Regions from separate parts of the Homo sapiens genome. Here region 1 is linked to region 2. The links come from fine-mapping of genetic effects on gene expression. Tissue or cell type: fibroblasts. Region 2 holds a variant in brackets; the other region holds the start of a gene. All regions are shown on one strand. Distances are from middle to middle.

Region 1 (8,206 bases), 76 kb before region 2:
AGGCTGGCCTGGCTGAGACACACAAACAGCCAAGGTGGTAGCCTGTCCTGCACTCTGGGCAATCCATCCCAGGGTTAAATTAGAACTCTGTCGGCTATAGAACATGGGTGGGGGTGCCAGGAGGCCCCAGTTGGTTGCATCCTTTTTTCTTAGCTGTATATTACTCCATTGTTTGGATGTTAGATAGTTTATTGAACCCATCTCCTATGGCAGGATATTTGGCTTATTTCCAGTGTTTTGCTCTTACCATTAGTGCTATAATGACTAACCTTGTGCGTAGATTTCTAGAATAAAGATGCTGGGTCAAAGGACAAATGCGTAGGATTTTTTCTAGAAATCAGTGAATTCTATGGGGTTATATCATTTTGAATTTCCAGAAGTGATGTATGAAAGTGCCTGTTTCCTCAGCCATGCCAATAATATGATGTCATTCTTAAAACCAGTAAGTGAAAAAATAGTCTTGTACTCTTGTTTGAATTTGTATTTTTCTTTTGTGAGGGAAGTTGAGCATCTTGCTATATGTTTAAGGGACATTTGCATAATTGAACACGGTTCAGCATTTCATGTTGATATACTAGTCAGCAAGTTGGAAAGACAAGAGGAAATGGAGAACTGGGAAATTCTAAGAATATGATACAAGCATTTTATACCTCATTTACTTTCACTTCACATTAGCTACAAAGAAAATTTCCTAGTTTCCCTTTTAGCTAATGTGAAGTGAAAAGTAAATGAGGTATACAGTTTGGGTGGACATGAGTCCCATTAAAACTTGGAACAGGGGTAAATGTCGTATTTCCAAGAGAAGGAAAAGGTGAATGGACACTGGGGACAGTTAGCAGTTTCTGCTACATCATCTTCTTTTAAAAAAATCTAGCTATTATCACAGCCCTATGTGATTTTTGTCTCATATTTCTTCTTTGTCCTCATCTCTTGCTATTCTCCCTCTTACTGGCATTCTTGCTGTTTCTCCAAAAATCAAGCATCCTCTCTTGTGGGTCTACTTGCCCTTCCCTCTGCCTGAAGTGTTCTTCCAGAACGCATGGCTCACTCTCAGAATTCTGCTCAAAAGTAAGCCCTTCCTTAAACACCAATGGTAATTAACATGCTCTCCATACCCAACCTTTTACCCTCCGTTGCTTTTCTTCTTAGAATTGATCATCTGTGTCAATCGAGGAAAATGACAAGTCTCAATCATTTTAGGAGATTTGTTTGCCAAAGTTAAGGACACTCTGGGAGACAAGTCTATGCCTTTCTCCGAAGATAAATTTGAGGGCTCCAAATTTAAAGGGGAAAGGGCGGGATATTGAGAAGCACACAGGTTTTCACATAAACAAAAGGGGGCAGAGGAAGAATGTGAGGAATCGCATTTTACATAAGATAACAAAATGGGGTAGGGGAACAATCAGATATGCATTTGTGTCTGGTGGGTGATTGCACCTGGAAAGACAAGCTATCAATTTGCATTGCTATGGTGAAGTTTTAACAGCTCACCCATAATTTCCCTGTGGGCAAAATATGGGGGAGGCATGTAGCCTTTCATCTTGTAGCCATCTTATTTAGGAACGAAAAGGGAGAGGCAGATTTGCATGACCCAGTTCCCAGCTTGACTTTTCCCATTGGCTAAACGAGTTTAGAGTCCCAAAATTTAATTTCCTGTCACATCTGACATAATAAACATATTATATCTTTGCTTGCCTAGTTTCTCATGTTTCCCCCTCCACAACTAATAATAAATGTGCCAGGCGTTGGCCTGTTTGTGCTTTTAACATATTTAAGCTGAATTATTTCTCCCAACAACTCTATGATGTGGTGTATCATTTACTATTACCATACTATCACTACATAACAAACCTCACCACAACTATGTAGCTTAAAACCAATAATCATTCATTATTTTCATGCATCTGTGGGCTGACTGAGAGTAGATTGATCAAGACTAGCCTTCGCTGGACTTGCCTCTGAGCTACAAAAGTCGGGTCCAGGCTGGTTCCCTGCATTAGCAAGCTAACTAGGGATGTTCTTCTCAAGACAGTGGCAGAGGCACAAGAAGGCAAGCCTCACCATGCAAAGACATTCCAAGCATCTGTTTGCTACTACACTTGATCTTAGCCAAAAGAAGCGATGCCTCTGTTTGTTATGTCTGCCAATATCCTATGGACCAAAGCAAGTCACATGGCCAGCCACAACTTTAATAGCACAAAAAGGTATAAGCATACTCTTTTCATGAAGGTGGGGTTGGGGGAGAGATATTTGCTAAAAAATAGTCTCATCTACCATTTTTTTTTTCCTATTTCTGGTGAGGAAACTCAGGCACCTAGAAAATAGAAATGGAATGCAAATTCAGTTGGTATAGCTCCACTCTATTCAGTAGAAATCTAGCCTGTATCTCCAATATGAGGGTAGAAACTTAATCTGTTTTGTTTTCTGTTATATTTCCCAGCACCTAGAACAGTGCTTGGCACTTAGTAGGCATTCAGTAAAGATTTGTTAGACAAATGAATGAACTCAGCACAGCACATGGCACATAATTGGTACTTGATCAATGTTAGCTATTATTATTGAGAAAAAATACATAAAACTTGGGAACAAGGTAAAGCCATGTTCATTCACTGTCACATTGAAACACTGCTTCACCGGCCAATGAAAGGATTATTAATTATTTAGGGAAAAGTATCTTTTTTGGACTCATTAACTACTACTGATCGAAGTCTCAAACTCTGAAGTTACGTTTTTATTTACAGATTTTTGTTCAATACAGATGTAATTTATTTTGGAAAAACAAATTATTTTTTAAAAAACAAAGGATTATTTTGCCCTGTATGACATTAGTGAGTGTTGTTTTGAACCTAGCAAGCTGACTCATCCTGTCTTCCTCCAATGCTGCTAAATTTCTTTCTCGAACTGTCCTTGGAACTTACATCATTTTGTTGCTTTCCTCATTTATGAGTTAAATCAATCTTTGACATATCTTCATCTTATATTTCGAGTTACATAGTTAACTTTTTGGAAATTGCACTTTAAAGTTAGCATCATTTAAAAAATTTTCCTGCTAGATTTGAAAGTGGTTATTCACTTTCAATTTAATTCAACTATTATTTACAGAATTCCCGGTTTTCTAGGTTACAGGGATGTGAAGCTGGAATATAAGAGGGGAGAGAAGGAACTGGTGATTGCCAGCCTTGTATACCAGCAACTGGGAGCCCCAAAGATTATTATGGACAATATAAAGCAGCCTTGACAGGTTAGAAGTCATTATCAAAGTTTTCCAAGGCCCTGTGTTATTTCAAGATTCTGATCACATAACTGGAAACTTGTCGATGGTTTTCAGGGGCAGTTAATATCCTGCAAAGAAAAAAATTGTTGAAGCCTCATCTTCTGGAAATGTCTGTCAACATTCAGGTATTAAATGGATTATTGTGGGCAACAGTCCTTCAGTAGCCCCCATGGAAGGGGTGGGGATTGAAGACTTTAGTTTGAAATAAACAATTAACAAAGGAGACTTAAAAGTTTAGTTGAGGACTCCTCCTCAAAATTCTGGTTGCTTTAATAATTAGAATTTCCATAAGAGTCTCAACGAAAGCCACTAATGGACCGCAGTGAAATCCTATTTCAGTATCATGAAACTGTTTTTAATCTGAAGCTTTTTCTCTTTGACCTTTTTACTCTTGAATTAAATGATAAATCTATAGATTTTCGGAACATTTTGGAGATCACGAAAGGGCACTGTGCGTTCTCTTACTGGGTGTACTGAAGTTCCAGTAAGTTTCAGGTTGAGGATGGCAATCAGGAGGACTTCGAATACTTAGATCTTGGATTCCCACAACTAGGAAAGTTGAATTGCAGGACTGGCTCTCTTCTGGTAATATTTGGACACCTTGGGAAAGGTGAATAACAGCCTTCAACTTGGGCCCCGAAACTTCTCTGTTACTTATTTTTGTAACTTAGTTCCTTGCCCATAAAACAAAGACTGACCAGTCAGAGACTTGGCTTTCTACGGATTATGTCAACTAGTCAAGGTAAGAGATTAGCACGGACCTTGGCACAAGAGAGCATTGCTTCATCCAGAGCACTTAACCAATGCTGGGATCTCCACCAAGTGTCCAGTAGGCGAAGGAGCCGGAGGGCAGTGGAGCGAGCGCACTGGGGGCTCAGACCCACCCCGGACACGCGGCTTCTCGGCCGTGTTCGGGACCTAGAGCCCGAGGGCCTCTCCCCTCGGCCTTGGCCTTGGCGTATACTGGGCGGTGGCGCGGTGCGCTCACTCCGCCCCCAGCGGGCTGGGGCGGGGACACCGTCCCCCGGGAAACGGGACGCGCTGCTTGTCCCAGGCCTTCGCTTCGGCCTGCGAGGCTACAGCTGTGCGCAGTGGCGCGGCTGCTAAGTAGCAGCAGGTGGGAGACTAGGGTCTGCGCTCGCGGCGACCGCGGAGGAGGGTGGGCGCCTGCGGAGGTGTCCTCGCTCACTTCGGGGGGCCCAGAGTCTCGGGTGAGGAGCCAGCCGGCCTCGCGTTCCCTCGGACGGTTGCCCAATGGCAGCCCAGGTGGCAGCCCGGGAGGCGCGAGACTTCAGAGAAGCCCCGACCCTTCGCCTAACCTCGGGGGCCGGCCTGGAGGCAGTGGGCGCTGTGGAGCTCGAGGAGGAGGAGGAGAACGAGGAGGAGGCGGCGGCCAGGAGAGCGCGGAGTTTCGCCCAAGACGCGCGGGTGCGCTTCCTCGGCGGCCGCCTGGCGATGATGCTGGGGTTCACGGAGGAGAAATGGAGCCAGTATTTGGAAAGCGAGGACAACCGGCAGGTTCTTGGGGAGTTTCTGGAAAGCACCAGCCCGGCTTGCCTTGTGTTTAGCTTCGCCGCCTCGGGGCGCCTTGCGGCTTCCCAGGAGGTAAGAGGCGACGGGCAAGGGGACCTGCCCATCCAACAAAACTACCCAGGGGAGACAGCCCAGTCGCTCCCCTTTGGATTCCCGCGGGGCGCTCACTCGGGCACTTTAACAAACTTGGCTTGAAGTCCCCATCCTGAGGCCCGCAGGACTCCTCCCCACGTGCACCCACTCTGCAGTTCAGCAGCTGCAGGTTAGTTTCCTAAGTCAGCAGTTTGTATCTGACCGAGAATCCCGCGTTGAGCCTGTTCGACCAGGATAACCCAAGAACACCAGCGCTTTCTTTAGCTGCTTGGGTGTTAGGCGCCAGGTGGGCTTTCTGTGCCAAAAAACTTGCGTTTCAGTTGCTCTTGGGTCACTCTGGAGTCACATCCTTTAAAAAATGGGGTGTTTGGCAGAGCGCATGTAACTCGTCACGTATTTTGATTACGTGCCAACAACACTTCACCCCAGGCAAAAACATTAAGTCCTTAAAAAGGAAGGCCCCTGCAATCTCCGCACACATGGGTGTTTACTGAACATTTAGAGGGAACAGTTCCCTCCTTTCTTCTTTTTCTTCCTTTTCTTTTTGAATTTCGATGATTTGTCCACTAAAAGGTTAACGTATCACCTAACGTACAGCACTTGTATTTAGTATTTTTCAAGTATGATGAGTTTGGAGCAAGATTCACAATTTTTAAGTAGCGCAATGCTCAGTTTAACATGTTATGTCGTTTTATCACTAGGTGTGGTCATTGTAATAGTTGGGAAATAGGATCTCAGAGAAGAAAGAGTAATAGGAAGGCTGCCTTATGGTATTGTGAATTTTGAATTCTTTTGTTTTAGGACTCTCCTAATTGTAACTTTAAAAAAAATAAGTTTGTCAGTAGACAAGGCGATAGAACACAACTCTAGTATTACCTAAGTTAAATAGTTATTATAATGTTCAATGGAATGACTCAGTAGTTGTGGAAATGTTAGCATGTTTTGGTTATACGGTTCTATTCTTTGATAGAAATACAAATTAACCTCTTGGGCTTGTCTTTATCTCAGTTTGGCTTATTTCCAAACCAGAGAAGAGTATAAAAAATAACCCTTTAGGATTGAAACATTTCTACATGCCTACGTGCTCCTTATTTGTTTTTAGTTATAAGATTTTTTTTTTGGTGTATAATGAACTGGTATAATTGGCATGCCTTTAAAAGGTGATATTTCCACACCAGTAATGCTGTGAAATTAGCATTATAAAAGAACAAAGAAAACTGTATACTCGCTGCATACTAGGGAAGAGCCGTAGAAGGACCTTGTTTATAGGGCAGGCAAGATGCCAGGTTTTGTTTCTTCTGCTAGCAATACAGCTACAAGTTGGATATAGTAAATCCTGCTTGTTAACAAGAAAACTACTTGAACTAATTATCTTGCTCTTGTTTTAGATTCCAAGAGATGCAAACCATAAACTTGTTTTTATTTCCAAGAAGATTACTGAAAGCATTGGAGTAAATGACTTTTCTCAAGTGGTTTTATTTGGAGAGTTACCTGCGTTGTCTCTTGGACATGTATCTGCTTTCCTTGATGAGGTACTGGTCTGTCTTTAATATTTAAAGCTTTCACTTATCTCCATGACATTTGAAATTATTTAGGACAACTCCGATAATTAAAAAAAGAAGAGCTAGGAGGGGAAGGGAAGGGGATGGGGGTGGTTAAAAAAAAAAAAAAAAAAAAAAGCTTGTAGAAGCCAGGAGTCTCTAGCCAGGTGGATGGAGTCATAACATCTAGACTGTTCCTGAAAGGAGCTCATGCTTACTGATGCTAATATTCAACAGGTGGCAATTGCAGGGATCATTCTCTCCCTTTCTTCCTTCCAACACAATAGAAGCAAATAAAAAGCAACTTGAATAGGTTCTTGCACCTTAGCAGCAGGTTTTAAGCTTCACATTCAGAGTAGAGACAAATTTACACTTTGAAAATGAGTATTATCAGTTCCTTTTTATACTTGTTAGAAACTAACAGTTAAAGACTAAGATTCACTCATGGCAGATAATGGGAAAAGGTGATGAAAGTGTTAGAAATGGTTCTTAAACTTTCTTTTTCTCCTCTTAAAATAGAGAAATAGTCTTCAACCAATGTTACTGACACTTTAATGTGCATAAGAACTGCCTGGGGATTTTGTGAAAGAGGTTGGTTCATTCAGTCTAGAGTGGAGCCCGAGGTTCTGCATTTCTAACCTGTTGCTGATGCTCTTTGTTTGTGGACTAGCTTTGAAGAACAACTGCCAAATAACCAGGTTCCATGGAACTAGAACCTGGCTCTCAAACTTCGCTGAACATTAGGATCACCTGGGGGAACTTGTAACACAATGCCCCAGGTCACACCCATACCAGTTAATTTAGAACGTCCTGAATGGGAGCCAAGTAGCAGCAGTTGTTCAAGATTCCCAGGTGATTCTAATGTACAGTGAGCTTTGGGAGCCACTGGGTTAGATATCTGTCTACAAGGCCAATTTCTAAATCAGACCTCTGTAATCAGTGTAGTCCTGCCAAGGCCGATATTTAAGGTAGGAAAAATGCTGACATATTTATTGCTAGTTATTTACCAGTCTCTCATGATCACACCTCTTCTACTTTTTGAGTCTCTTCTTCTGTCTTTTTGAAGGGAGGTATTTTCCTGCTGGACTAACCAAAGTCTCTCACCCCTAACTCCTGTACCCTGCCTGGGTTTCCCTTCGCTCCTGTTGAATTTAATTGGCTTTAGCTGATTTCAGGGAGGTGCTAGGAAGACAATCTTTTAACTTCAGTACCAGGAACAATTTTTGGTATGCAGCAGGTGCTCAGATTTTAATTGAACTGAATCTGATGACTTTGGTTCAATATGAGAATCTAGACCACTATCAACTGGAACTTGGAGGGGCAGGGCTACACTGTGAAATTCTTGCTCTACTATCTGTGTCTGGCAACAGAAGATACAAGCCTTTTTCAAATTTCTCTACTCTTTCTCTCAGTACCAGGATCTGCTTAATATTCTGAAAAAGGTATGCCTGCTCCTCAACATTATGATGTGTTTCCATACCAGAGTGTATTATATATTTATACTTAGCCAAAGTATATAAAATGTCATATGGTTATTTCTTTATGTATCACGTTGGCCCACATTTCAAAAGAAACAATAATTGTGAATGCTTACCAAGACATAAAGAAAATGTCATTTGGTTCTTCTCAGTCAATATCTGGGCCCCATCCTTGGAAATTCCAATTTAAAAAATCTAGAGGGGCCTGGGCTTCTGTATTTTAAAAGTGTTTCCTCAGTAATTGTATTGAATGGTTTAAGAACTGTCATAAAGAGAAACCCCACAGT
Region 2 (8,000 bases):
AAGACTTGGTCATCACAAAAGAAAAAACATGTCAGCATTTACGTTTGGTGTAAAATGTAAACTATTCTATGTAGATGGGGTATATAATTGAACCTTGATAAAGACAGTCATATGGTGATGTTTTCATACTGGGCTGTGTTTTTAGCTTTATGCTTTATTTCACAAATTCTCTTGAGTGCATTTGATATTATTGATAATCTGTAGGGTATTTTTTAAATCTGAAAGTTTTAATAAACTAAGTCATTACTTAAAATATAATTCATTCTTACATGGAAGTTTCTAGAGCCCCACCTTTTGTTCTTCAGCAAATTCCCCAGCTCTCGGTACAAAAACCAAGAGGAAAAATTGTATTCAGAGAAATCTGATGAAGAAGAAATTTTGCTAATACGTGTATAGGGACAGTATTGTTGAAGTTACTGTGTTTAACAGTAATCTGTTCTCACTTTTTGTGCAGCTGAGTTTGCTCTTCTAAAACCTACATTTTGCCAGTAATTACGCTGCAGATTTATTTTTATTTTCCCGTTAAAAATCAAAGATTGAAATGTCGAGATAACCAGAGCTACAGAACTGCATGTCTTCTCTTTCTCTGGCAGTTTGTATGCAGGTGTTTATGTTCTCTCCTTAGGCAAATGAAGAGCTTGAGGCCTTAGAAGAAGAAATGTTGCAGATGCAAGAATCTACTCGTCTTTTTGAAGTGGCTCTTCCAGAGTACAAACAAATGAAACAGTGTCGCAAAGAAATAAAATTGCTCAAGGGACTGTGGGATGTCATTATTTATGTTCGAGTAAGATGTGCTTTTTCAAAACATGCTTTTTATTTAGTAGTTCTTTTACATATGCAGTTTGTGGAGCCTATATTATTCTATTTGGGTTTTATAATGTCTTGAAATATGTGGAAATTAGATCCTCACCCCAGCCCCAAATTAGAGTTCATGTATCTCTGTTAGTGGATGATTCTTCTTTGAATACCAGTTGTTTTTATTTTTAGTTCAGGATGAAACTTTGTTTAATAAGCTGACTGCCTCAAATCCTTTGGGGAGATTGTAAAGAATATAAATAAAATAAAAATTAATATATAAATATATATTACATGTGTAGTCATCTGTGCATACCAACTCATACATATTCCTATGCTTATACTTACATGCCTGGGCATACACAAACAGACCCTTCCTAAAAATAATTTGTATGTGGTTAATTAAGTTAAAAACTTAAGTGAAAAAGTAAGTTCTAGGGAATGAGGCATATTGCAACAAGCACTATAATCTTTTATGTTAGTTGAAAGCCATATAGAAATATATTAACAAAATATAAAATATGGTCAAGAAATGGTTGATGAGAGTTTTGTTTATAATGGTTGAAAATTGTCATGTGAAAGCTTATTTAGTTACATGTAGAATTATAAAAGTCTGTTATTTAATAATCTACTTATCAATTTATTCAAAGTACACAGGATTAAGTGATAATGATGGTATGTGTATGGAATTTATCATCGCTACTAGAAATTAATATATCATAATGTTTTAGCCTTTAGCTTGACGTGTTCTGACAACTTTTTTGTTTTGGTGATAGGGAAGTTTTGACAAGTGCAGTTAATATTTTAAAAATTGACTTTCCACTGGATGATAGAGTTACAGTGTATCATCAGTTTATATATTTTGCTGCAGAGACTTGCTTTCACCAAATGTTGTTGACACTTTTATCTGCTTTTGCGTTTTCAGAGAAGCATTGATAATTGGACTAAAACCCAGTGGAGACAGATTCATGTGGAACAGATGGATGTAGAACTCAGAAGGTTTGCCAAGGCGAGTTCCATAACTGTCTATTACAACAATTTATCTTTCTCAGCACCACCTCCTTCCATCTTCCCTAATCTAGTATCTGGTGTATTGGGCTGCATGTACTTATTTACTTCTAACAGAGTGATAGCAGACAGTGTTTTTTTCACCCTTAGCCAGTTGCACTTCTAATCAAGCCTGTCTTTCTGTGAGTGAGTTGATAGAAGCATATTAGGGTTAATGAATTTATGAGAAGCTACTCTAATTATGAGCTTCCTACAGCTTCCTAGAACAGAGAGGAACATTATCAGGGCCAAGGGGTCAGGCTTCTGAAAGCTTTTGATTTCTTTGCTTAGCAACCATAAACATTTTGTATCTGAAAAGGTACCTTTTGGCTCTGGAATTTGGGGCAACTAATAGGAGCATGCCACCTCTGGATTTATGCGGAATACTATGATCTTTGTTCTTATTAATGACTCTGGTATCCCAAGGGGGCTCAACATATACAGAACTGAGCCTATTGTAATTTGGTACTTATTGGAATTTGATGTCTATTCTGCATAGCCGTATGCCCTCTGAAGACAGAGCATCTTTGGATAAAGGCAAAATGCATATCAGTGAAAGGCAGTTAAAAGTGACAGGACCATTTGCTTTTTTTCCACCCCAGGGCTTCCTTGCCTCAGCTTCTACCCACTCTCGCCTGTATTTTCCCCCATATTATGCCAGTCCCAAAGACCCAAACTAAAATGTCCCTTCATTCTTTCGGATGTCATGGGGTCACATTGTCCTTTATTTCGTGCTAAGTTCTAGTTGTTTTCTTATGGGTTTTCTCATTCACAATTGCTGATGTTTTTCCTTGGGCTGAGAGGACCAGCCAAGTCAAAGGACCTATTTGGCATTTTAAGATGATGAAATATTTAGGTTTCAAGAAACAGGCACTCAAAGGTAATCAACATTCCAAGGCTGTTGTTTAAATGAGTCATGTATTCCGAAGGAGGTCTTAGTAATCTGATAACAGTCTGTTTCCATTTACTTATGTTTATAGAAGAAACATTCTTCATTGCACGTGTCCTGTGAACTCTGTTACTTACCTGTGTTTCCTCATGGGACATTCAGTTAGATCTTGTGAATGAGAAAGCAGTGTATACAAGTGGCTTGTACGGAGTGGGCTTGTAATGTACAAATGAGTGGATCCCTTTTCGTTTCTCTGGTTTTGCTCCTTGGTCTAGGAGTTCAAATGCTTTCACTCTTTTCTAATCCAGGAGTTGGGAAATATATGTCAAAGGAGGCAAATTATTAATATATACTGTGTTATATCTTGGGAGCTAGGTTTTTTCCTCCACTTTTCTTTAGGAAATTTGGTCACTCAACAAGGAAGTCCGCGTCTGGGATGCTTACACGGGCCTGGAAGGCACAGTTAAGGACATGACAGCCTCCCTGAGGGCCATCACAGAGTTACAGAGCCCTGCCCTCAGGGACAGGCATTGGCACCAGCTGATGAAAGCTATTGGGGTCAGTATCCTTGGTCTCACTAATGAACCTTTTTATGACTGTGAAGTGTTACTTCTTGGTTTGCATCATCTGAGATGAAGTGTAATTTATGAAAAGACCCCCCTCAGCATAGCCTCTACTTGCTGTGTTATGCCTTTTTGCTGTCTAGAAAAAGTCGCCTGATCCGACCAACAATTTAGAAAAAGGCACCCTCCTCCAGGCTGTCCCCAGGACAGCAGAGCGGAGGCTGGCTTCCATCTCCATTTGTCATCTGGGCTGGTGTCCACGTTCAGTACACAGATTGCACAACTAATCAGGGTGGCCCTATTAC[T/G]CATCTCTCCTCATTCTTTCTCAAGGACAGACCTAGCTCCCTGGCTCCCAGCAACTCTGGAGTGAGGCCAAAGTTGACACAGAGATAGTCTGGCAAACTCATCTAGCTTTCTCAGGACTTTCCAGATTTTAGCACTGAAAGTATCACATCCCTGAAATCCACTTGCTAGAAACCCCTCAGTCCGGAGCAAATCAGGGCATTTGGTCCTCTTATGCAGAGGCGTGGATGGTGCTAAGGAATGTTAGAGGGTAGGGAGGGGCAGAGGGTGGCAGCTTCCAAGAAGCAGATTCTGGATATTCTTAGCAAAAGCCGGAAAGAAAATGGCTTTCCTGCAACCCATATGGCTGGCTCAACTCTTCACTTACAGGAGACATGAGTGAGTTTGGGTATGTCGAAGAGCTGAGGATGTCTCAAGGACCCAATATAGGGGAGGGAAGGAGAGTCAATGTGAGAGAAGGGGAGTCATTGTCACAAGACAATGTGGAAATGAGAATTATTTTTCACATGGTAAATATGAATAATGACACTGTAAGACTATTTTTTTTGCCAATGAACTGAGATTAAATTAGTGATAAAACTAGGTTAAATCACAGAAGCAGCTGGGAATTATGTTCAGTGAATAGGGTTCTTTAGGAAGAAAAGACAAATGAGCCACTACCTGATTCCTGGGATTTCAACCAAATTATAATAAATGAACAATGAGATTCTCTTTAAAAATGGGTTTTGTGGGCAAAGGAGATAAGAAACGTGCCGACAAGGGAAAGATGTGAAACAAAGAAAATAGTGTAGCACGGATGTGACTAAACTGTGGCCCTTGCTTCCGGCAGGTGACGCCTCAGGAATTGTGAGTTAAAAAGGAGTGTCTTAGATTCTCCACGTATTTCAAGACGAGAGATGTACTCAGCACCTGACTTGAGTATATTTTAGTTAAGATTCATTTCACCAGCCTTTAGGCAAAAGGAACCGTTCATATATGTGGAATATAAAGTCTAACTTTTTTTCCCCCAATCAGGTCAAGTTTTTAATAAATGAAGCCACAACTTTGGCAGATTTGTTAGCACTGCGGTTACACAGAGTGGAAGATGATGTCCGAAGGATTGTGGACAAGGCGGTGAAAGAGCTGGGGACTGAGAAGGTAGTGTCCTCGGGACTGGGTCATTTCTACTTGGCTAATTTTGGGTATTTGCATAGAAGCCAACTTAGAGAAAAGTCCTTTTGATGTCCTGGGAGCCTGGAGAGATGAGTCCCAGTTTGTTCCCTGCTGTTCATTAGGTGTGGGATGAGCAGGAACTAGAATCATTCTAAGCCACAGTAAAACAGGAGGATTGGTCTTGTTGATGATGATGATTATAGCAGAAAATACTTACATATCCTTTATTTTGTAGCCAACACCACTCTGAGTGCTTTATTTATATTAACCCATTTAATCTTCTGAGGTAAGTAATAGTATCTCTATTTTACACATGGGGAAACTGAGGTATAAAGAGATAATTAACTTACCCAGATTCACACAGAAGACTGAGATTCATTCACATTTGAGGCATTACCTGTTTCATGCTGGCTAATTTGTAAATAGTATCTACCAAACATTTAAGTCCCTTCCTGCTCTTGAATTGTGTTTTGGTTAGGGATGATAAACTCACATTCAGTAGAAGTTTGATGTTAGTGTGATGCTCATACCTTTGATGTGATAAAATTCATTCTTCAAACCCCATTAGCATGAATTACTTGGAGGAAAAAACTCAAGCCAATAATACTTGATATCAGTTTGCATTTTTGAAAGTTGAAAAAAATTAATTCCAGATAATAGTCTACATATTGATTATCAATTAAATTTTGTGCACATTAATTATATTGTTGATTACTAGGTTATTACTGAAATCAGTCAGACCTGGGCAACCATGAAGTTTTCTTACGAAGTTCACTATCGAACAGGCATTCCATTACTAAAGTCTGATGAACAACTTTTTGAAACTCTAGAGCACAACCAAGTAAGATGGATATTTTTATTGCATATATTTTTCATTTTATTTTTATTTGACAAATAATTGTATATATAGGGTACCATGTGATGTTTTGATGTATGTTTACAATGTGGAAAGATTAAATCAGGCTAACCGTCATCTCATACACTTAACATTTTTTTTGTGGTGAATCACTTAAAATCTCCTTTAGGAATTTTGAAACATACAATGCATTATTATTTATTGTAGTCACCAACTGTGCAATAGATCACTAAAGCTTATTCCTCCTGTCTAACTGAAAATTTGTACCCTTTGATCAACAGCTCCTCTTGCCCCCTCCCCCCGGCTCTGGTAACCATCATTCTACTCTCTGTTTCTATGAGTTCAACTTTTTTAGATTCCACGTGTAGATGGCATCGTACAATATTTGTCTTTTTGTTCCTGGCTTATTTTGCTTAGCACTGTCCTTTAGGGTCATCCATGTTGTTGCAAACCAGGATTTTATTCTTTTTTTTAAATTTTACTATTATACTTTAAGTTTTAGGGTACACGCGCACAATGTGCAGGTTAGTTACATATGTATACATGTGCCATGCTGGTGTGCTGCACCCATTAACTCGTCATTTAGCATTAGGTATATCTCCTAAAGCTATCCCTCCCCCCTCCCCCCACCCCACAACAGTCCCCAGAGTGTGATGTTCCCCTTCCTGTGTCCATGTGTTCTCATTGTTCAATTCCCACCTATGAGTGAGAATATGCGGTGTTTGGTTTTTTGTTCTTGTGATAGTTTACTGAGAATGATGATTTCCAATTTCATCCATGTCCCTACAAAGGACATGAACTCATCATTTTTTATGGCTGCATAGTATTCCATGGTGTATCTGTGCCACATTTGCTTAATCCAGTCTATCCTCGTTGGACATTTGGGTTGGTTCCAAGTCTTTGCTGTTGTGAATAGTGCCACAATAAACATACGTGTGCATGTGTCTTTATAGCAGCATGATTTATAATCCTTTGGGTGTATACCCAGTAATGGGATGGCTGGGTCAAATGGTATTTCTAGTTCTAGATCCCTGAGGAATCGCCACACTGACTTCCACAAGAGTTGAATACAAACTACCATCAGAGAATACTACAAACACCTCTATGCAAATAAACTAGAAAATCTAGAAGAAATGGATAAATTCCTCGACACATACACCCTCCCAAGACTAAACCAGGAAGAAGTTGACTCTCTGAATAGACCAATAACAGGCTCCGAAATTGTGGCAATAATCAATAGCTTACCAACCAAAAAGAGTCCAGGACCAGATGGATTCACAGCCGAATTCTACCAGAGGTACAAGGAGGAACTGGTACCATTCCTTCTGAAACTATTCCAATCAATAGAAAAAGAGGAAATCCTCCCTAACTCATTTTATGAGGCCAGCATCATCCTGATACCAAAGCCGGGCAGAGACACAACCAAAAAAGAGAATTTTAGACCAATATCCTTGATGAACATTGATGCAAAAATCCTCAGTAAAATACTGGCAAACTGAATCCAGCAGCACATCAAAAAGCTTATCCACCAGGATCAAGTGGGCTTCATCCCTGGGATGCAAGGCTGGTTCAATACACACAAATCAATAAATGTAATCCAGCATATAAACAGAACCAAAGACAAAAACCACATGATTATCTCAATAGATGCAGAAAAGGCCTTTGACAAAATTCAACAACCTTCATGCTAAAACTCAATAAATTAGGTATTGATGGGACGTATCTCAAAATAATAAGAGCTATCTATGACAAACCCACAGCCAATATCATACTGAATGGGCGAAAACTGGAAGCATTCCCTTTGAAAACTGGCACGAGACAGGGATGCCCTCTCTCACCACTCCTATTCAACATAGTGTTGGAAGTTCTGACCAGGGCATTTTGGCAGGAGAAGGAAATAAAGGGTATTCAATTAGGAAAAGAGGAAGTCAAATTGTCCCTGTTTGCAGATGACATGATTGTATATCTAGAAAACCCCATTGTCTCAGCCCAAAATCTCCTTAAGCTGATAAGCAACTTCAGCAAAGTCTCAGGATACAAAATCAACGTACAAAAATCACAAGCATTCTTATACACCAATAACAGACAAACAGAGAGCCAAATCCTGAGTGAACTCCCATTCACAATTGCTTCAAAGAGAATAAAATACCTAGGAATCCAACTTACAAGGGATGTGAAGGACCTCTTCAAGGAGAACTACAAACCACTGCTCAATGAAATAAAAGAGGATACAAAGAAATGGAAGAACGTTCCATGCTCATGGGTAAGAAGAATCAATATTGTGAAAATGGCCATACTGCCCAAAGTAATTTATAGATTCAATGCCATCCCCATCAAGCTACCAATGACTTTCTTCACAGAATTGGAAAAAACTACTTTAAAGTTCATATGGCAC

Evidence for each region. PIP is the estimated chance that this variant, and not a neighbour inherited with it, causes the effect.
Region 1: DNAH11 starts here. The variant in region 2 is fine-mapped to the expression of DNAH11 in fibroblasts (GTEx, PIP 0.99).

Annotation. Positions count from the first base shown.
Region 1 is chr7:21,538,718-21,546,923 of GRCh38, forward strand. It overlaps DNAH11 (dynein axonemal heavy chain 11), which reads left to right and starts at 4,322. Exons shown (of 82, transcript NM_001277115.2): 1 at 4,322-4,879; 2 at 6,289-6,432. The coding sequence starts at 4,529. RefSeq lists enhancers at 3,644-4,145, 6,478-7,444 and a silencer at 4,194-4,243.
Region 2 is chr7:21,614,489-21,622,488 of GRCh38, forward strand. It overlaps DNAH11 (dynein axonemal heavy chain 11), which reads left to right. Exons shown (of 82, transcript NM_001277115.2): 21 at 626-784; 22 at 1,721-1,804; 23 at 3,131-3,289; 24 at 4,612-4,734; 25 at 5,468-5,590. Among named protein-coding and RNA genes, the nearest start is that of DNAH11, 75 kb to the left of the region's middle. The variant T/G (reference allele first, on the strand shown) is at 3,600.